3 separate regions of the Homo sapiens genome follow, and regions 1 and 2 are each linked to region 3. Evidence: fine-mapped expression QTL. A gene starts in region 3. Each other region holds a variant in brackets. All regions are shown on one strand. Distances are between the middles of the regions. Region 1 overlaps LINC01331 (long intergenic non-protein coding RNA 1331). Region 2 overlaps LINC01331 (long intergenic non-protein coding RNA 1331). Region 3 holds the start of ENC1 (ectodermal-neural cortex 1).

The links. PIP is the estimated chance that this variant, and not a neighbour inherited with it, causes the effect. A credible set is the group of variants that fine-mapping cannot tell apart.
Region 1: its variant is the best candidate, but not a certain one, in a credible set for the expression of ENC1 in whole blood (TOPMed, PIP 0.66).
Region 2: its variant is the best candidate, but not a certain one, in a credible set for the expression of ENC1 in whole blood (INTERVAL, PIP 0.66).

What each region holds. Positions count from the first base shown.
Region 1 is chr5:74,450,426-74,457,857 of GRCh38, forward strand. The region is part of intron 2 of LINC01331 (long intergenic non-protein coding RNA 1331); the gene reads right to left. Among named protein-coding and RNA genes, the nearest start is that of LINC01331, 83 kb to the right of the region's middle. The variant A/G (reference allele first, on the strand shown) is at 2,953.
Region 2 is chr5:74,508,237-74,515,668 of GRCh38, forward strand. The region is part of intron 2 of LINC01331 (long intergenic non-protein coding RNA 1331); the gene reads right to left. Among named protein-coding and RNA genes, the nearest start is that of LINC01331, 25 kb to the right of the region's middle. The variant C/T (reference allele first, on the strand shown) is at 3,509.
Region 3 is chr5:74,637,695-74,645,126 of GRCh38, forward strand. It overlaps ENC1 (ectodermal-neural cortex 1), which reads right to left and starts at 3,034. Exons shown (of 3, transcript NM_003633.4): 1 at 2,613-3,034. It also overlaps a transcript of HEXB not described here. RefSeq lists enhancers at 2,483-2,842, 3,304-4,019, 4,020-4,733 and silencers at 2,883-3,142, 5,650-5,944.

The DNA of each region.
Region 1 (7,432 bases), 190 kb before region 3:
ACATCTAACAAGCTCCAGATGCACACGTAGTGGATTTAAAGTCCTGTCAATATGGACACTAGAGTCTGAAATGAAACACTTGGCATTCAATTTGACTAAAATGTTAAACTCACAATTTATTGGTTCAATAAAATGTGAATGCTAACAGCCAGTTTTTACGCTGGAGCCTCCACATCTGTGTATGTGTGTGTGAATGTGTAAATGCAATTTTTCAAGGCAAAGCTAATAGCAAAGTTAAAAAACGGTCTTCAAAATAGAGCTTTGGCGATAATAATCATTTTTAATGGACCTGAAATGTTATTCATGATAAACGTGTTGCCAAGCAAAATCCTTTCCTGTGTTGGGTGATAAAACAAAATTGCTGATAAACTACAATGTCTGTGAAGGGTGAAGACACAGACGGCCGAAGAAATGAGAGCTATCAGAAAATATGAGCCTTCCCAAAGGCTGTGACACTATCTTCCAGTGTTTTCCTCTGCTAGGGCTGGCTGACATGTGCAAAGCTACAAATGACCAACCTTGGTGAAAAATAAAACATGTAAGCTTTTGTAGCTGTAGAGGGAGTGTGGAAGGCAATAACAGTTTTATTAAATGTTTGACTCAAGAATGACAGTTAAAAATAAACAAAACTTGTGTTTCCCAATCAATAGGAAGAAAAACATACTTTTTTCCCTGACATCAATTTCATCTCTCCCTTTCTGTTTAAAATGGGAACATGGGAAGGTGGAGTAGATATACTTTTCCCTATTCCTCCCACTAAGTACAACAAAAAAGCCTGGCTGTTATGTATAAAACAAACATAGAAGACTCTTAAAGGTGAAAAAAAGACAGAACTGTTAGGAACTGTTGGGAGACTGAAAAAACAAAATGGTGGGAAGTTTTCTGGGATGTCTTTTTGCTTCATATATCCAAGCATTGGAGATAAAGAAGCTGGCAACCATAAATGCCATCGATCACAGGCAAAAAGGCAAAAGCAAAAACAAAACCCCAACAAAAGCTTGCTCACTTTAGCCAAAAGACTAGGAATTAGACAGCCTTGTAAGACAGAAGACTTTTAGACAATAACTGCCCTGATACAACCACAGAAAAAGTATGTCCCCAGCTTCAGTCATGCCAACAAAGGCTCAGGGAAAGCCTAGATTTTTACCCTCTGGAGCCTGTTATGGGAGGCTGCTATAGCTTGAATCCGCTCATCCCAAAAAGTAGGTGTGGAAAACTTAATCCCCAATCTAACAGTTTTGGGGGTTGGGGCCCAATGGGAGGTGTTTAGATCATGAGAGCTCCAACCTCACAAACAGATTAATGCTGATTATCAATGGGCTTGAAGCTGCAAGTTCCTCATCTTGCTTTTCTTTGCTGTCTCTTTGCCCTCCCACCATGAGGTGGCTTAATAAGGAAACCCTCACCAGACACTGGCCACTCAAGGTCCCCTATAAGGATTTCCCAGCCCCTAGAATTGTGAAAAATAAATTTATTTTCTTTATAAATTACCCAGTCTGTAGTTTTCTGTTATAGCAACACAAAGCAGACTAAGACAAGCATGCACTAAGAAGGGAGCCAGGACTTTCATCCCTGCTGATTTTTAACATGTCCCACCCTTACTCCAAAATATAGAGACCACATGGGGAACTTGAACTACTACCCTCACTCAGCAACAGTAAGTCATTCCTCTTTCCCTGATAGACTACTGCCATAAACCTGGTGGAGAGTCAGGATGCTCATCATTACCATTGTCACGAGTGGTAACAAGGCGACCTCCCCTCCTGTGCTGTCAGTGGAAGCCACACAGGGAGCAATAACAAAGCATGCCTACTACCCCTCCCAGCCAGGCAGTGTCAGAGAAGCCAGGTAAAGTGCTGGAGCTCCCAGGCCTGCCCAGCAGTTATGAGAAGGGATATGGTTTAGATGTTTGCCCCCTCTAACTCTCATGTTGAAATGTGATCCCCAGTGTTGGAGGTGGAGCCTAGTTGGAGGTATTGGATCATGGAGGTGGATCCTTCATGAATGGCTTGGTGCCACCCCCGTGGATATGAGTGAGTTGTCACCTCTATTAGTTCATTCGAGAGCTGGTTGTTAAAAGGAGCCTGGCATCTACTCCCCTCTCTCTCTGACTCCCTCTCTCTCCATGTGACATGCCTGCTCCCCTTTCACCTTCCATCATGAGTAAAAGCTTCCTGAAGCCTCAGTAAAAGCTGGGCAGATACCAGCACCATGCTTGTACAGCCTGCAGCACCATGAGCCAAATGAACTCCTTTTCTTAATAAATTACCCAGCCTCAGGTATTCCTTTATAGCAATGCAAAATGGACTAACACAAGGAGACCCCCCACAAGTGTTTAATAGATGCCTGTGAGGAACCCAGACTTCTATCTTAGTGTGTTTGTGTTGCTCTATAAAAGAATACCTGAAGCTGGGTAATTTATACAGAAAAGAGGTTTATTTGGCTCATGATTCTGCAGGCTGTACAAGAAGCATGATGCCAGCATCTGTTTCGGATGAGAGCCTCAGGCTGCTTCCACTCATGGTGGGAGGCAAAGCAGAGTCAGCATGTGCAGAGATCCCATGGTGAGAGAGGAAGTGAAAGAGAGGAGAGAGGTGTCAGGCTGTTTTTAACAACCAGCTCTCTCTCTCAGGAACTAACAGAAGGAGAACTCACTCACCTCCCGACCCGGGGGAGAGAATCAGTCTCTTCATGAGGGATCCACCCCCATGACCCAAACCCGTCCCAGTAGGGAAACCACCTCCAGCATTCAGGTCAAATTTCAACATGAGGTTTGGGGAAACAAACATCCAAACTATAGCAACTTCTCTCCCCATCAGCCGGTACTGAGGTGCTTCTTCCCCTCTCCTTGTTTGAGTGGTGGCCGAGGAAGCAAGCCAAAACACAAGGTTTAAAATTCACAGTCTCATAGCATGAGACCCAGAATGTCCGGGTTTCCATCAAAAATCACTC[A/G]TGACACCAAGAATCAGGAAGTTCTTAAACTGAATTTAAAAAGACAATAAAAAGATGCCAACATTGAGTGAACGGAGATATCTAACATCTCTGTCAAAGAGCTTTATCTGACAAAGATTTTTAAGGCAGCCATCGTAAAATGCCTCAATGAGCAGTTACAAACACACTTGAAACAAATGAAACATAAGAGTTTTGTCAAGAAAATAGAAAGACATAGTAAATAAATAGATGATATTAAGAGCCACGTGGAGGGTGTTTGTCACTTGGTTGCTGAATTCCACTGTTCTCCCCTAGACACTCTATTTGATATGCAGTTATCTATTTGTTGTTTTGCCTGTGGAGGAGATGAGTGCTGGGTGCCTCTGGTCAGCCATCTTGATAATGCCCTTTCTTTCTGTTATTATTTATTACAACTGCATGTAAACCTATAATTATCTCAAAATAGAAGGTTTAATTAAAAAATAAAAACAGGTTGGATGCAGTGGCTCACACCTGTAATCCCAGCACTCTGTGAGGCCAAGGGGGAGGATCTGCTAAGGCTAGGAGTTCAAGACCAGCCTGAACAATATAGTGAGACCCTGTCTCTATCAAAAGAAAAAAAAAAAGTAAACAGTGCACCTTCTAAGGCAAACAACTTCATAAATTATGACCAACTATCTAACGATTTTGGATCCCTTTTCCACCCTCCAATCTTATGCTCATTAAAGTACAGTATTTACATTTAAAATTGTATTAACTGAGATAAAGTACAAAATTAATTCTCAATTCAAGGAGACACAGCTCTGTTCTGTGGACAAAGGACAGGAGAGAACAACCTAAGAATAAACAACTGTACTATTTTTCTGGCTATGTAATTCAATTTAATGCTTATAATTCTTTAGGCATAAAAATGCTTAATCTTTAAGATTAAATTTATTAATTCAAATGCATTTATATATCTACCATATGGCCAGGTTTATATTTGTTTCATTTATTATTTCAGACCTTCTGGTAATAAAGATCTCTCCGCCCAGAACTGGACAATCACTAAACCTCCTTCCTCTCCCACCCCCACCTCTAATATTAGTAACTCCAGGTCCAACTCCAGCTGTCATCTGAGAACAAACTGTTATGAATAGAATAGTACCTTGTGACCATAACAAAATAACACCATGATTCTATCATTAACAAAATAATGTGTTTTCCTTTACATCAACATTGCTGGTGTAGTTAGTACCATACAAAACCTAAGAGAGACACGGATGGATTACTGGGCAATGAGACGATAAGAATTATTTGGAAATTACCATTACTCTTTACTCATCTCCTACTCCCCAGAGCCAATTTGTGTGCTATACTTGGGGGAAAAAATGCTGGGTCACAGAAATTGCTTTTCCATAGGTCTGGCAACTGTGTGAAAGGCCTAGGGATGGGCAATAATGTATTCTAAAATAGCATGTGCTTTGTCAAAAGTTCATTTGGAGGCCAGGTGCCGTGGCTCACGCCTGTAATCCTAGCACTTTGGGAGTCTGAGGCAGGCAGATCGTTTGAGCCCAGGAGTTTGAGAGCAGCCTGAACAACATGGTGAAACACCTGCTCTACAAAAAATACAAAAATTAGCCAGGCATGGTGGCTCACGCCTGTAATCCTAGCACTTTGGGAGACTGAGGTGGGCAGATCATGAGGTCAGGAGTTCGAGACCAGCCTGACCAACATGGTGAAACCCCGTCTCTACTAAAAACACAAGAATTAGCTGGTGCGTGGTGGCGCACACCTGTAATCCCAGCTACTCAGGAGGCTGAGGCAGAAGAATCGCTTGAACCCAGGAGGCAGAGGTTGCAGTGAGCTGAGATCACGCCATTGCACCCCAAGCCTGGGCAACAGAGCAAGACTCTGTCTCAAAAAAAAAAAAAAAAAAAATACAAAAATTAGCAGGACATCATGGTATGCACCTGTTGTCCCAGCTATTTGGGTGGCTGAGGTGGGAGGATTGCTTGAGCCCGAAAGGTCAAGGCTGTAGTGAGGTGTGATCACACCACTGCACCTCAGCCTGGGTGACAAAGTGAGACTTTGTCTTACAAAGAAAATAAAAGAAAGAAAATTCATTTGGGGGTTTACCAAAACAACTGCCTCAAAGTCAACTGTGAAAAAGATGGTGAAAACTCACTTGTATTATTCGGACCCTGTCACAAGAATCATGCATTTGGAACTGGAATTCCATCATAACCATCCCCAAATCCAATTTTTTGTGTGTAGGGAGTGAGGACATAAGTGTGACATATTATGAAGAGAAATTTTTATAAATTTCAAGGAATTCTTATAAGATATAACAGCTTTTAGTCAACACAGTTTTGGATGAACTGAGTGTAAACAAATATAAAAATGGCTATTAAATTTCCATTCAGATTTATGCACATGGGTTTAATATTAATAATTAAGAAAAGAAAGCTGGCAAAACAAATGTAAAATTTAGCCAAACCCAAAATGCTTGAAAAATAAGTCAAGGCTTTCTGAAAACATAGAGCACTACTGGCTTACCCATCCCTAGTGACAAGAAATTGAGAAATTGAAACTAACTCCATTTAAATATTCTCTCTGCCCCAACAAATGCTACAGTTCATTCCTGCCAAGGAGCCCAAGAGACTGGCTCTTTAGTGCCAAGAACAAAGCATAGGTCTTCACATGCCCCCCATTCTGTCAGGGCTCCATGCTCAGATGCCACAAGGGTGGAATTTTCTCTCTTCTACCTCCAACCAGGTGACATGTTCTTACTTTTGAATCTAACTTTCTTACCTCTGGTTCTTGAAAAATATATCAGTTCACAATTTGGAGTAAAAATAATTATCAACCCTCTGGAACCCTAGGCCTGTACCTATCCTGACTTGGAGTCCCTTTGGTGACGTTACAAGACCTAATATGATTTCATAAGACTGATGCCCCATAATTGCTATCAAATCAACATAGCAGGGCAGAGAAGGAGGGGTGGGGCAGACTTGCCATACATTGATAGGTGAGAATGTCCAGGGTAGGAATGTGTGTAGTTAAACTCTATCAATTCTTAGCCACACCTGCTTCTAACAGGGTTAACACAACTGTAATACGTGATATTGTATAGAACTCCACAGTTTATCAAATATTTTCATCCACATTATGTCATTTAATCTTCATGATAACCCTTTGAATAGAGTATTGCCATTCTCCTGATGAGGGGACCACAGCTCAGAGAGGAATCTTCTCAAGTCAGTAGTTAGTAAGGAGCTGCCAGGACTTGAACCCAGGGATTCCAAGTTCAGTGCTGTTATCAGTCCATTCTCACACTTCTATAGAGAACTAACTAAGACTGAGTAAGCATGTCTTACATGGGGGAGAAAGAGAGAGAAAGGGAAATGCCACACACTTTTAAACAACCAGATCTCATGAGAACCCACTCACTATCACAGAAAACAGCAATGGGGAAATCCACCCCCATGACCCAATCACCTCCCACCAGGTCCCCCCCGACATGTGGGGATTACAACTCGACATGAGATTTGGGTGGGGACACAAATGCAAACCATAACAAGGGCTTTGTCCACTACACTACTGCTGAGGTAGGGCAGAGCCCTACACAGTAGCTGATACTCACTCAATGCTTTAAACGCTTAACCCATATGTACTTAAAAAGCCACATGCTCTCCTGGAACTCTGCTGCTCAGATCCAAACTGCTAAGCCAGGAGCTCAACATTACCATGAACGTGTTGGTATTTTACTCTTAGACGGCATGGATCAGAATGTTTCTATGTGAAAATCTTAGAATCTCCTCCATGTTTAACTCCATTTTCTACCATACAAGATCCTAAATACTCCATAGATATCAAAGCCATCTCTGAAAAAATGTCTGTCAAAATGTTTTTAAGAAATTATGGTGCCTGATGAACTGAGGCTTTTATTGCATTTTTTAGAGACAGAATAAAAGAAATATCTATCTGAAGTTTAAAGAATTTGTATAGTGGTTTGTTTGTTTGTTTGTTTGTTTTCTTTCCTTGAGACATGATCTGCACCCAGGCTGGAGTGTAGTGGCATGATCTTGGCTTACTGCCAGGCTCAAATTATCCTCCCACCTCAGCCTCCCAACTAGCTGGAACTACAGGTGCGTGCCACCACACCTGGCTGATTTTTTGTGTGTGTATATTTATTTTTTTGTAGAGACAGGGTTTCCCCATGTTACCTAGGATGGTTTCTAACTCCTGGACTCAAGTGATCTGCCCACCTCGGCCTCCCAAACTGCTTGGATTACAGGCATGAGCCGCCGTGCCTGGCCTAGTGTTGTTTTTTATTAGCCAAAAGATATCTAGTCCTCTCATTCAAACCTGGGCAAATAAATTAAGTTGCGATGCCACTATATACCTGCTATACTTTATATTTCATTATGATTGGAATATAAGACTATAACTCATTAAAGAAGTGTGTTTTGTTTCATATTAACTGTATAAAATAGTTCCCTAGAAGTCATTTGAATGA
Region 2 (7,432 bases), 130 kb before region 3:
TTTACACTTCTGTTCACTCTCTGTGCACTCTGTTTACTGAGACTCCTTTCATACGTTTTGTCTTTTTCAGTAAAACCTTTTTTCAGTGACATAATTATATGTTTGTATCTGAGTCTACCAAACAGAATCCAGAAAATCCAGTACAAAGAGCCTGGAAGTCTGCTCCCTAAGTGCTGGCCTTCTTGCCCAGTGACCTAGCCCACAGAACCAAGGCATCTTTGCTTAGGGCCTGCCCCTGGCCCTGAAGCTCCCTCATATGAGGGAAAGCTAACTGACTCTGGAGTCTCCTCACAGCCATTTGCTGCATTGGAAGGCGGTGGGATTCTCCAACTAGGCAGGGGGACCAAACAGAATGCTCCCAGCCAGGGACTTCCCACCACTTCTGCTGAGAGATTTCAGCTGGCGTCGCTCAGAGGGGCTGGAACAATTTGGCTGTCCACAATTTTCGTATTCTTTTTGGTGAATATGGTTGTCTCCCGGGATTTTAGATGGTGAAGGCAATAGGACTCCTCCCTCACACCTCATTCCTAGAGCCTATATGTTAGGCTATGGTTTGCATATTTGTCCCCTGCAAAACTTATGTTAAAATTTAATCCCCTATGTGACAATATTAAGAAGCAGGGCCTTAAGAGGTGATTGGGTCATGAGGGCCCTGCCTTTATGAGTGGATGAATCCATTCATGGATTCATGGGTAAATAGCTTATCATGGGAGTGGGACTGGTGGCTTTGTAAGAAGAGGAAGAGAAACCTGAACAAAGATGCTCAGCCCCCTCACTATGTGATACCTGCACCACCTCAGGACTCTGCAGAGAGTCCCCACCAGCAAGAAGGCTCTCACCAGGTGTCCCTCCTTGACCTTGGACTTCCCAGCCTCCAGAACAGTAAGAAATAAATTTCATTCCTTATAAATTACACAATTTCAAGGTATTCTGTTATAAACAACAGAAAATGGACCTAGAGACAATTCTCCATGATTCCCTCACTTTCTGCATGTCTTGTTAGCAAGACATTGACTGCCTTTGTTCTGGACTACCTTTTCAAAAGTGTTTGTATAGTGAATAATCTTGGAAGACAGAGTGTCTCTCTCCAGAGTTTGCTTCCCATTATAAGATATATAAGATCCCGTTTCCCTCAATGAAGGGGTCATCTCCTGTAACATAATCCACTCCATGTATTGGTGTCACCTGGCCTTCCCATCACACTTTGGGGATTGAGGCTTGAGGAACTGGGACAAAAATGCTAATACTCTGGCTACTGCTTTTGCTGTGAGGGATAAACTGTCCTTCATCTCTGACTGAAGAGTCTCATGTCTTCTACCAACATCCATGAAACTATGGCAGACCACCTTGTTAACTTGTAAGTAGGGCTAAGTCTCAGACCATTCACAGTTCTTGACAATATATTATAATAACAACAAGTATCAAGCTACCTTTCAGCACACATGTAAACATTTATTAACAAACAGGCCAAAAAAGTCATGTAATCTGTTCTTTTAATGGGTGAGCTCCTGCTTCTCTGTCCTTTAAGCATGTCAGCAAACACTTTCCATGAAAAGTTTACCTGAGGTAGATGTGGCCATATTCTAGTGGCAAGATTAAGCTAATATTCTATTTGGATTAGGTGACAGAAGCATCTATCAAGTGGCAGAACACTGGACTAGACTGAAGCTCTAAACCAAGTATCCCACCACTCCAAAGGGTATTAGGCTTTTGGACTTACCAGAGTCTTGTCTTCTGTTCATGCAATTGAATATTTCTACTCAATGCACATAAATAGAATGTCATTCAGCTCCCCAATAAAAAATTTCTAGCATCCCTTATAAGAATTAACAAATTCTCTAAGGCAGATCTAGATGGGCCTATTTAAAGTCTACTTATGGTAATGGCCTCTGGGTATGAATTCCAAATTAGGGTCTTTCAAATGCTCACTTACTACCCTAGAGTATGAATCCCTGATTAGGAGGTAACTTCAAATGTTTGATCTATCCTAGTTTATTATAAGCAGCAAATCATGCTTGGTTCACACTGTCTATTCTGAAGTATGTTCAATTACAACACTTTAATGGAAGCATTTTGTTTTTTAAAGATACAGCTTCTAGGACACAACTCTTCCCTCTTTCCCTTCTCTTGGGCTTTCTCCATTATAGGAAAAAAACAGTTGGTTAGTCGGCACTTTTTGGCTTGCAGAGCCAAGGGTCTTTGGCACAAATGGCCTCCGATGAGTGCCAGGTACAGTCTCATGTTATTCAGTTGATTTATACCCTTAAGCCCAGTTTAAAACCCTAATAACTCTCTTTCTCCTCCCTTCAAGTTACCTAGCTCATTTGCTAGCCCTTGTCATATGGCAGCCTCCTAGTACACTACCGGGCAGGCTATCCCAGGGTCATGGAATAGAAAGAGTCACAGACTCACATATTTGCAATAAGATGCTGATATTGCACAATGTATTAAATTTATTTAAAACACATGGCAAGATGTAAGGGGAACTAGACAGGCTAGGTTAACACACTTAGGGTAAGGTAAATATAAGCCAACTGGGAGGACCACACTGCCTGATTCCTACTTACACAATTGTTCATATGCCTTGTCTCTTTCTCCTCCACATGAGCCTCCTCTGCTACTGATGTGGTTATAAGGACCCAAAATGAGGTTTAAAAAAAGAGGCCCAGCAAATGTAATGTGCTTGGAGCTAAGATGTGCTCATACTCCACAGAGATCTGAGGGCAAGTAAAGCTGGCTATAGCTGTAACTTGCCAAACAGCCTGCTGAGCAACTATAGATTTTTATTTGCATTTTTGGGGTCAAGTACATATGGGCCCATAGTGGGTATAATGGATGTTCCTATTAGGTGCCAATTTAGGGATGGCATAGCTGTCATCCCAGAAGTGACCAAATCATATGATTTAATCTTTCTGTTTCTTCTTTATCTAAAAGTATTCATCTTATTTGTTCCATTATATATTCCATTCCATTCTTAACACATCTTTCAGGTTACCCACTACCTATATTTAACATATACCCACTACCTATATTTTGCCCACATTGCACAGTCTGCTTGCTTCTTCTTTATCTGCATGCCTAACACAGCTAGTGAGTTTTGCCTATATCACATGAGCTACTTGCTTACACAGCAATGTGTGCTTAACACATCTTATGAGTTTCAAACATCCTGTTTATTTTTCTTGTATTTTTTGAATATTCTCAATAATATAACCAATAACCAGCACAGATATCCTAAATGAAAATGTAGACTATAAAATGGTGCATATAATGATTGCAAGTACATAAGAATATGAATGTACATGAATAATAATTGGAAGATAATACATAAAAATAAAAAAATATGCTGGGGTAGTGGGGTCATGAGTAACTTTTGTTTTCAAAACTTCCTTTGACATCGTTTGTATAATGTGTCCTTTTTTAACTTTTATTTTAAATTCAGGGGTATGTGTGCAGGTTAGTTATATAGGCAAACTTGCATCATGGGGAGTTGTTGTACAAAATATTT[C/T]GTCACCCAGGTATTAAGCCTAGTACCCATGAGTTATTTTTCCTGATCCTCTCCCTCCTCCCACCTTCCATCCTCTGATAGGCCCCAGTGTGTGTTGTTCCCTTCTATGTGTCCATGTGTTCTCATCATTTAACTCCCACTTATAAGTGAGAACATGTGGTATTAGGTTTCCTGTTGCTGCATTAGTTTGCTAAAGATAATAACCTCCAGCTCCATCCATGTTTCTTCAAAGGACATGATCTTCTTTTTTTTGTGGTTGCATAGTACTTCATGGTGTTATTGTACCACATTTTCTTTATCTGGTCTATCATTGCCATTTAGGTTGATTCCATGTCTTTACTATTGAGAATAGCGCTGTGATGGACATACACACGCATGTGTCTCTATGACAGAATATTTTCAGTAACATTCATTATTTGTAAATAGGCTAAGATTCCATATAATCTATATATAATACTCCCTTCTGACTAAGCATGCAAATGAGGAGTATTTAACTGCAAAACCTATCTCAAGTTTAAGGAATTTGAAGAAGTAAATTGAACTCTTAAGGAAGAGTTTGGACTCTGAACCATTTATTTGTATCTCGAAGAAAAGGCTTTAATGATACAGGCTATTTACATATTTTACAGCACAATTTTTAGGCAATAGATTTAGCCATAATTTTTTATTTCATTTAAAAATAACTACTGAATACAACCCATCTGGCAATATTTTCTCTTCCTATTTATAAGCCCATTTGAAGTTTCAAGGTAATACAGAAAAAATCAAAATTATTTATGTGTTTTTGAGTAGAAATTTCCCCTTTGCTTGATTGACTACAGCAAAAACTAAGACTATGGCTCTAGCTCTATGTTGATTACCTTCTGAGCCAGTTTCCAGAGTGCCAAGCGCCCTTAGTTATGATGCCACAGGTTCATCTCTTACATTCATATTTTACTATAAATCAATGGGTCTCTCAAAACAGAGATTTAAAGGGGTCTCAGAGCTTCTAAATCGTTAGAATCTTTTAAAATACAACTGGTTTCCCAATCAGTGTTCAGAAATGAGAGCTCCTCAGTGGATTCCAGCTAAAGATCTGCCAAAGCCACTTGCAGTTTAGTGAGAACTGAGCTATCCTTTCATCAAATAGCCTGGCAATTTAGCAAAGTGTGATGACATGAATAGATAGACTCATTCGCATCTTATCTTTTGAATTCTGCTCAACTGCCCAAGTTGAAGAGTGTGTAACTTGAGCAAGGGCAGGCATCCTTAACTTGAAATTTCCAAATGCCAAGGAAAAAAATTTAGAATGTCCTTGATATGTATGGGGGTTATTTAAAGCACTCAATTGCTCAGACAACTAAAAGGTCCATTACAGGCAGAAATAATTTTTAAGTTAAGTTTGAGCCTGTTCAAGTAGAGCCTCTCTCCTAGTATTTGTCACTAATAGTAAGTGTCCCAGCTAATGTACATAATGCTTGTTTTAAATCTTCTCACTCTATCAACATGTAGTGAAGAAAAGCTGTTAGTCCATCATAGTTGTGCTGACCAAAGCAATCATTCTAGTAAAATCATACTGCATTTTTGTTTGCTCAAAGCCAATTTTTTAAACACCTTATTTGTGTAAAGAACCTTATAAATACAGAAACAGTTTGTTTTAGATAAACAACAATTCTCACTGAGAACTATAAATTTAGTATTAGTTGGCAAATAATAGTAGGCATATGAATTATATATATGAGAGAAATAGGTTTAAAAAATAGATTAGCCACATTACTAAGGGGCTTATACATTATCATGAAAATATTCATCTTGAAGGATTATTTCAACTGGGCTGCCATTTTTTGGAATCATTTTGGAATTATTGTTGTCATTGCTTTCAGAGCCATTTTACATGAAGAAGATAATATTAGGATATTACAATTAGGCCTACTTTTTTTACTGAACCTGACTCCTAAGGACTGTGGATGGTCTTTGAGAATCAATTTACCTTCCAAGCATAAAGACTTTTCCTCACTGAATACAGTCGGAGAAAATGACAGAGGGACAAGGGGGAATTTTCACTCCACTTTGGAGCTACTTTGAAAGGGCTAACACTCACTTACTTGGAAGAGTATGCACTGGTGTGTTGTGTTGTTGAAAAATAAATTAGGTCCCTTGCTTCATGGTTTCCCTCTGTCCGTGCTGAGAATAAGGGAGCTCTCCTAGCAGACTAGAGTCTCCCACAGAGCACCGTTTCACAGGACTGTGAACAAGAGTGTCACAAAGGATCAGAGGGGTTCCTACAGGGCATGCTGCCACTGTGGAGCTAAAGAACAGCTTTCTGGGGCTCCAGCCTTGCTTCAAACCAGCCTTGTGGGGTACTCCTGGAAAAGGGACTCTTCTAAGCCTTCTCTGCTTGTTTACTCACCATGCAAAATTGAACCTCCGGTGTGATGGAGCCCAGCATCCCCTCACCACTTGTTTGGGGCCAAAAAGAAACCCAGGACCAGGAGGATGAGGTTACCCAGTGCCCTGCAGATGGATCAAGAGTTATAACACAGGTCGGAGAACATGCTTCACAACCTTTAACTAGTTATTACAGTAACAAAAAGAACAGCCTGGAGAAGCTACTAAACAAAAATAGTGCAGTCTACCTTGAGCCAAAGTGCCCAATCAGGGGCCAGGAAAGGGGCAAACTAAGTGTCCTTTGTTTTCCAGCCAGGATAACATTCAATTTATAACTGTCCCAAGGACAGAGTAAAAAGTTCAGTTCACAGGATCCATCATGCCTTCACAGTAGTCTGTTCCCTCATCTCAGGATTTTAAAAACTCCCAAAGGCACAATCCCAAACACATACCAAAGTCTTCCCCTATGAGTTCTTGCTATTGACTCCTCAACTCATGGCCCATTACTACCTAGAGAATAAGAAATGGATTTGTCCAAAGATTTCCACCCCAGTCTATCACTCTCCCAGCCTACGACTCTATTTCTCCTTTTTCCCATGGCTAGTCACATAAAAGCAGTGGAGGAACATCTCAGGGTTCAAGGTTAGGCTAACAGACACTGTTCTCTGCAATTCAGTTAACGGGACTTGCGCTTTCAGCATGAACCAGTTTCCTTCCATGTCCTCACGTTTCCACTCTGCCGCAGCCCCACCAGAGGATCATGCTCCTTTCCAGCAAGTTCATCTACTTCCACTCCAGGCTTAAATTGAGCACTCTCTGAGCTGCCTTAGTCACAGAAAGCAGGGACCATTCTGCTCGGCCATAGGTCCACTTCTAGGCTTTACACTCCTACACCTCCTTCCTAGCCTCTTGATCCCAGGCTGGACAACATGCCCTGGATTCTGCCACAGAAAGTCCTCCGGGGAGACAGCCAGGGAATAGAACAACTCCTGAGCTTCCCAAGCTGCCTCCTGTTCCCAACACAATCATTCCTCTGTCTGCTCACTGGCCCTCTATAAATTCTTCTTTGCAAATTTCACAGTTTCTTCTCCTAGGAATTAGCCTTCAACATCACAAACAGGAATACCCCAAATAAATACAGGTCACCAACTATTCCATCCAGTGAATATCCCAATCTACACAACCTACCCACACAAAGACAGGCACTTGTGTACTTTGCCCCTATTTCCTGGCATGTTTTAATTCCCAAAACATCCATTGATAAATATTTGTGGAGAAGCAAGCCTCTGGATTTCCCTCCTGATCTGACAGCACACTAAAAAGCATTAGGTTTAAACCCTAATGATGAATACATCAGTAACTCAACAAGACGTTCCATAAACATTGGGATTATATTTATTTATTCCACTGGTCACCACGAAGGTCATGCTATTCTTTCCCTCCCAATGCTAATTCCCCCACTTTGCAAACACACCTGCCACATATTTCTCATCTTGAGGCCTATAGGCTGCACACTTCTTTCAAATATGCCTTGATGCTCTCCTACAAGATATGGCT
Region 3 (7,432 bases):
CTGACACCTGCATAGAAGGAGTTCAAAATGCAAACACTGCTTTATTTAAATCAAAAAATACGTGTGTGTGTGTGTGTGTGTGTGTGTGTGTGTGTGTGTATTTTGCCAGCTGTTGTTAATTTAGGGCCACCCCAGAATTTATTTGCTGACTACAGTGCTTTCCTTGGTATCTACATTGAAATTATAGTAGAATCTAATGCTATCTTTTGGTTTTCTTCAGTAAGAAAACAGTAGGGTAGAGACATAGGAAATGCTTGTCACCCATCTTCAAAAACTGAATCACATGCCTTCATCCTTTTCTTTTACACCATCCCTCTGTTACTTCAAAGGAATGAAGTCCTCAAGAACCTGCCTGTCCAAGGATTCCTAAGGAAGCTGTTTATCCCGCTGTTTATCCCCAGAGGGTAAACTGTGTGGCTGGTTGCAGTATCTGTTCCAGACACATAACAGCCAGTCCCAAAAGCGCAGCTGAAACTCTGTTTCCTTTAACCATTCAGACATTTTTAAATGCATATTCTAAGAATTATTAATAAATGCAAATGAATGATTTGCCACAGATTCATGGGCTAAAATACTAACCTGCACCTCCCCAACCAGATGTGAGCCCCACTATAAGACTGCACAGAAAACCACAAAGGCAGGGGCATGACACATATACCTCATACCATTAGGTGATGCAACTAGTTTTCTTTCCTTTTTGGAATATAATTTTTTATGATGAGTAAACATGGCTGAGTGGAAGAAAGGAAGCAACAAAGTCCTAGAGCTCCAGTGTTAGGAAGACTTTACAAAGCACCCAGTAATTTCCACAGTGACTTGAGATATAAAAAATGGTGAGGAGCCAGCTTCACTCCCACCTCAAGCTAAGCATCTACTGTCTACTCCATTCTAACCAATGCCCAGTGTTTTGGAGAATGACCATATGAACCTATGGGAATGCATCAGGTTTCCAAAGGGTTAAAACATTCATTAGCATTCTCAATGCTCCACCACTGTAGTTGCTATTTTAATTAGTACATTCAATCTGGAGTATCTGGAGGAAGACTTTAAACCTAAACCTCAATAGACTGTCTACTTACTCTTGTGAATCTGCCGCCTCTCTCAGAGCAAATGCTGCCCTGAGTGAAGGAAGAATGAGGCTCCCTGAAACTAGGTGCACAGGCACCAAAATGCTTACACATTGAGCTGGAATCATGCTAGGCCCAGAACACATTTCCTTGAACATTAAATTCAGGATGGTGCAAAACAACATTCACAACCAGACTTACACCTAAGAAAACAATTTGCTTAGAAGACCTTAGGATATAGGATCTACATCTCTCCGCATCCTGTGTTTATGCTCCTGTATGTTCCAGGTTGGCCCAACAAGCCAGAAGGAAGAGCCTAGCCTGTCATCTTGGATACCACCCAGATGGAAAAGCACGTCACAGTCAAAATCACAATCAACATTCTTGCAACAATGTTTGATTAAAATAAAAAGTAAACTTGGAAACCCAAGAGGAAATACTTGCTTTCTGGTTTAAAACTGTGCAAACCTCAAAATATCAGCAGAAACCATGTATACAAGTCACTGAACACACCTTCAACATAAAATGAATCATCTTTCGAGCATTTTTAAGCCCCCAGAGAAATCACATTTGCATACCAAGTAAGTGGCCAAGAAAATGCACACATGTACTTAACCTACGTCTGCAAAGAAGACAGAGAAAGGGCTGCTATTACTGTGAACATCAAAAGGGCTTCAGTTACAGTAACTTCAGTTCACTTCATGCTCCTAACTCAGGCTCTCTGCCTCCAATGCTTAGCGTCCCGCACCCTTCTCCAGGTTTTGAACCTGATCTCAATCCAATCAAAAGAGAAACTAAGCAGATTTTTTTCTGGGCATTTACATTACCGGTAACAATAGAACATTATAAAGATCTTGTTAACAAAAGTAGCTTCTTGCCAGAGTCTTTTTATTAACACTTGCAACGCTATTTAACAAGCTGGCCATGCCTGTGTGACACCAAACCGCATGTGGATAAATTCAGTGTTTCATCTCCAGGCCCACCAATTCCTATCCTTTGTAACTAATAATGTTAACACGACAGATCAAGAAACTAGTTTTTCAGAAAGCAGTTTTCATTCATTCTCTATAGACATTTCCGCCGCAGTGAACATGCCCGCACTCAGGGTGTCTGTGCATGGCCCCAACTTTCCTCCAAGCCGGGGAGGATGCAACGTGGGCCAACCATCCCGCGCGCTCGGCCCTGGAGGCTGCGGGGAGCGACGCAGCGCGACATTCACCCCCAGGAAAGCGCTGCTTTCCGCAGAGGAGAGAGGCTGACTGTATCCTTAGCTCGGCTCCTCGCTTCCCCAGCGGCTCGCCCCAGACATTGCACCGCGGAGGGGAGGCCGGTCGACCTCTCCGGCGATGCCCGGCTTCTGCCTGCTGTGGGAGGGCAGCGGCGGGCACCGTGATCTCCGCACCGAGAAGAGCTCCCCTTGCCCTCTAGTCGAAGCTCCCGAGTGCTCGGAGCACGCTCACCCCTCGCGAACACACCCCTGCAGCCGAAGCAGCCCCTGAAGCCCGCAGCGCCTGCAACAGGTCCGGGGCAGTGGGGGAAACTTACAGCAGTGGCGACTGGCCGCAACGCACAACTGAGTTCTAGCGACGGTCACGGGCAAGGAGGCGACGAACCGGTCGTCTCAGCCCAGGGAAGCGGTGGCGAATGCCCCGGAGAAAGGAGGGCCAGCCGGGGAGAGGACTGCGCCCCGAACGATGGCTCGCGGACCGGCTACCGATGGCGTTCGCCTCCGTCTGTCGTCCCCACGCCGCGGACCCGGTGTCCAGGACCCGCAGAGCGTCTCCGGAGCGCGTCACGGTAGGGCAGAGCAAGCCTGCCACTGCAGGCGCCGCGGAAGGAGGCGGGCTGTGCGCTCGGGGGAGGGAGCTAGAAAGCGCCTTGTGTGCCGGCGGCCGCCAGGCGTCTGGACCGGGTCTCCGCAGCGCCACCGCCGCACCGCCTCCTCTCCGGCTGCCAGAGCAGTCTGCGCCCCGCCGCCGTGCGCCCCGCTATAAGTGGCGCGGCGGGGAGGGGAGGGGGCGCGTATGCAAAGAGACCGACACCGGGGGAGGGAGGAAGCGCATTAGCGCGGCCTGTGGTGTAGGAGGAGGAAGAGGAGGAGAAGGAGTGGGAGGAGGAGAGGAGCTAGAGAAGAGCGTGTCGGGGGAGTTAATCGGGAGAGGAAGCGGGAGAGGGGGGCTGCGGGGAGTGCAGAGAGACAAAGCGGACGCACTGTCTCAGCCGCTGGCAGCTGCAACCCCGGGAACCGAGAATAAAATAAGTTTTCCCGGGTTCGAGTGTCTGCGCCTCTTTGGGCCAGCCTGGTTAATGGACAGCCCCGGATCTGAGGGACCCACCTTAGGGGAGCGCAGCCCGGGGCTGTGCGCTTGGTGATGCCAGAGCCCGCGAGATGCTCTAAAAAGGGCTGCAAGGGGCGAGCTGGGTATCCGCAGGACAGGCCCTGGGCACGCATAGACAGCGCCTTGGGTAGGACACCCAGAGTGGGGAGAGATAGTGGCAATGGACGGGCAAAAGTCTGGACAGTTTAGGGACACTCGGGTTGAGCAAGCCAGGACGTTTAAGTTTCTTGCTGGCAGAGAGCCAAAGAGACTCCAGCCCCAGGCATTTCCTATGTGTCCTCCCTCCCCACTCCCCAGTGGGTGCGGCACCCCCGGCTGGACTCTGCCCTAAGCCAGGCGACTGCAGGGGCAGCCGGGGCGCAGTCCTGCGGGGCGCGCACCACGTGCTTTTCAGCCAATCGCCGCGGCCGCTTGATTCAAAGTGAACTCCTCAAAGCAGCAGCCACGCCGCCTCCTCTCCTAGCGATTAAGCCTCCATCACCTTCTCCTGTTTTTTATCGCTCGGTGGTGTTAGTTTGGAGTTCAGTAAAGAAATGGCCCAGCACACACACACGTTTAATAGTCCCGCGTGTCAGGAGAAGGGAAGGCGATTCGAAAAATAATCTCGCGTGGTGATCACTTTTACGAATCCCATTTATCTTTGCAACTAGAGGCTTGTCTTTCCACTGGGAGTTAAAATATCTGTCTTTTATTCGGTATTTGGAGCTAAGTCTATAAATGAACGGGATAGATGACCGGTCCAGCCCCCTTGTTTTACAGGTGGGGAACCGAGGCCCAGGGAGATGTGAATTGCCTGGCTCGTAGTCACTTAGCAACAATGTCCCAGCTCTGCAGCTCGAGAGTGAGGGCCCCACGACAGAGTTTATTCCGTCCCCGGGTCCCCGCGTCCCCAAGCGCCCGCGCTTCGCCTCCCAGCTTGCTTTAAAACACTAGGCGCAGGAGCGATTTAAACTGGCTAAGGAGGCCCCACATGGCGCTTCCAGAGTCCAGACTGCTGAAACCAAGACTGTCAGTTCTTCATTCTAATTTCATTTTCCTTTATCCTTGTTCCTTCCTGGTATTTGCGCCGAGAAATTTCGCTCCTTGCAAACAAAGAAAGACAGTGCCCTCTGAAGTCCTTTGTTAGCATTAACTCGGCAGCCTCACCACGAACCTTTCAATATATATATTTTTTAATGCAGAGTCTCGGCTTGAGGCTGATTCACAGAGACAGCCCGGATCAATTCATGTCAAGAACCACGTATGGAGAGCCAGGGGGGCTGCGAGGTTAGGAGAGGGCTGGCAAGCAGCACCCAGGTTCTGAAGCAAAGACCAGACAGATGGAAACTCTGTAGACTCCAGAGATAGGTGCTGAAAAGATGGGAGGCGGAAATGTGTAACTATTGCACATATGTCTTTTTAAAACATGTTTCTGTAGCCTGTGGCAAGGTGTGGGGGAGCTCATCAAGGCAGCCACCAACGCACCTTTTAGACACCTCCTAGACCCACTCTGTCTGCTTCCTTTGTGAGTCAAATCTACCTAAAACGGCACCTAGATGACCTTGCCTAGAAATGGACTATGTACATAGCTCAGCTGGTTGGTTGGGGATTTTGCCACAGGAAGCGACAGAACTAGGGACAGGTATGTATCTTTACCACCTAGAAATTGCGGGATGTCCTTAACCAAGGGAACAGCAAAGTTCAGATCCCTTTGCAAAGAACTTTGCTAAGCAGGCAGGGCTGAGAAAGGAAAGAAATCCGCTGGCCATTGTGTCACCATCCGCTGGTGCCACTTTCCTGTATCTTTTCTACCTAATGTTGCCACTTTCTATGCTTCAATAGAAGAAAGGGAAAAAAAGCTGTAGACTGGAAAATCTTGAAATGCATTCAGTGACCGTATACATTCGCTTCATCTGCCTCGGGGAGATAAGCAATACAAGAGAAAAGAAATTAGCTTATGTAAGTCCTAAAAACTGGAAAACATTTTCCTGCTGAAAGTCACAAGAACTAAACTTGCAAGTTTGGAAATCATGGGTGCTACTGATGACCTCCTACAAACTGTACTCTGGTTTGCTTGAGCCAATCTATGACTAGTTTTCGGGCAGTTGGGCAGTTTTTAATGCTTATCTCAGCTGAAAATGATTTGCAAGTTAGCAAATTTATGATCATAGCAATTCAAACGGTGTAATCCCACAGCATCTCTCAGCCAATCCTAAAGGTAACTCTTATCACCCCACTCACACAAAGAAAAGCTGAGCAAGTCTTCATTTTGTACAGGAAGAAACTTCTAAACAGGGCTGTCATCAAAACTGGACGACCATAGACATAGCAGATATCTGAGTCACAAACAAGTCAGGAAATGCTGCTTACACTGTATCCGCATTACACAATAGCCAACACTTCACACAAGACATTAGGCCAGTCCTGTAGGCCCTTGGGAGCAGGTCTTTGCCTCTGTCTTGTGACATCAAACCAAAGTCTCATTTTTTAATGCTATTAAGAAGCTGTGCCCAAGGCTTTGGGCTTGTTATCTCCCCTAACAATGTTATTTTGTTAGGCCGCAAAATAAGCAGCATGCGGTTAAATGTATTAGCTGCCTTCAAACCTAATTTATCTTCATTCCTTCCTAATTTACACTTGGGCTGAATTAATGAGAATGATTTAATTAACACGGTGCGATCATGGTACCAGGGACAGGACAGCTCAGGGAATTAGACCAAACAGTAGGCTAAGCAGCTGCCATCCTGCCTCCGGTGGTCTCCTGAAGCCCCACCCAAATTCAGACATGTTCCCTGCTGGTATTCCAAAAGCGCCCTCTTTGTTTTATGAGGACACTTTCTGAATCTGTGCAAGGAAGATAGCACAGCTTTCCTTCCCCGAGTTATTTGCTAGATGGACTTCAAGGCTGTGTCCTGGAGACAGAGTGTGGCAGAGGGGCCAACTGCCCACCAAAGATTTGTGCTCCCCTTCCATAGTGTCAAGTTCGTGTTGGGAAGTGGACGCCCAGTCAGGGACCACACCTCCCAGTAGCACATATGTTGCGATCAACATCCCTGAAGGGGAAGGGAGGGAAGCAGGGTGGACAGATGGAGATGCTGAGCTGGGATGTGGTCTCAGCCAAGCCTTGGCTGACGCCATGGGGACCTCTGGAGCTGAAATGGCCTCACAGGTTGTCTGCATTTAGGGCAAGAAGGCTTTTATAGGGCTACATCACCCAGTTGCTGAATGCAGCTTGCCCAGGGAAGGGACCATGGCTTTGGGCAAGGTGGTGCTCTTTTGCTGAGGGAGCTGCCAGCACACACAGAGGCTGGAGGAATAAGCCCTCCATTCCCAAAGGAGGATCTGAAGACCTCAGAACAGTGAGAATACAGATATACAAACCTAGGAAAATGAGACCTCAGCTTCCATCAGCAATCCTCTTATTTTTAAAAAGAGAGAGAGAGGAAAGTCTGGCTGTTTATTAAAGAGATGAGAATAAGGAAAAACACAGGTAATCGATACAAGAAATTATCAGCATTTTATAAAACAGTTATCACTTTTTTGTCTGGGGAAGACAAAGGGTCTAAATCGATAGTTTTCTAAATTTTGGTTTGCCATCTTCTATCTTTGTGCGTTAAAAAAAGTTATGTTTATGTTAAATATCTGTCATGATAAACCTTGAGAGTATTCTTCCTCTTTTTTTTCCTTTTTTTTTTTTTTTTTTTTTTTTTGAGACAGAGTCTCACTCTGTTGCCCAGGCTGGAGTGCAGTGGCGCAATCTCGGCTCACTACAACCTCCCCCTCTCAGATTCAAGCAATTCTCCTGCCTCAGCCTCTCAAGTAAATGGGACTACAGGCGCCTGCCACCACATCCGGCTAATTTTTGTATTTTTAGTACAGACAGGGGTCCATCATGTTGACCAAGCTGGTCTCGAACTCCTGACCTCAGGTGATCCACCCATGTCAGCCTCCCAAAGTGCTGGGATTACAGGTGTGAGCCACCACTCCTGGCCTCCTTAGGAGTATTCTTAAGATTGCATCCGAATTGGTTTGATCATATTTTAACAT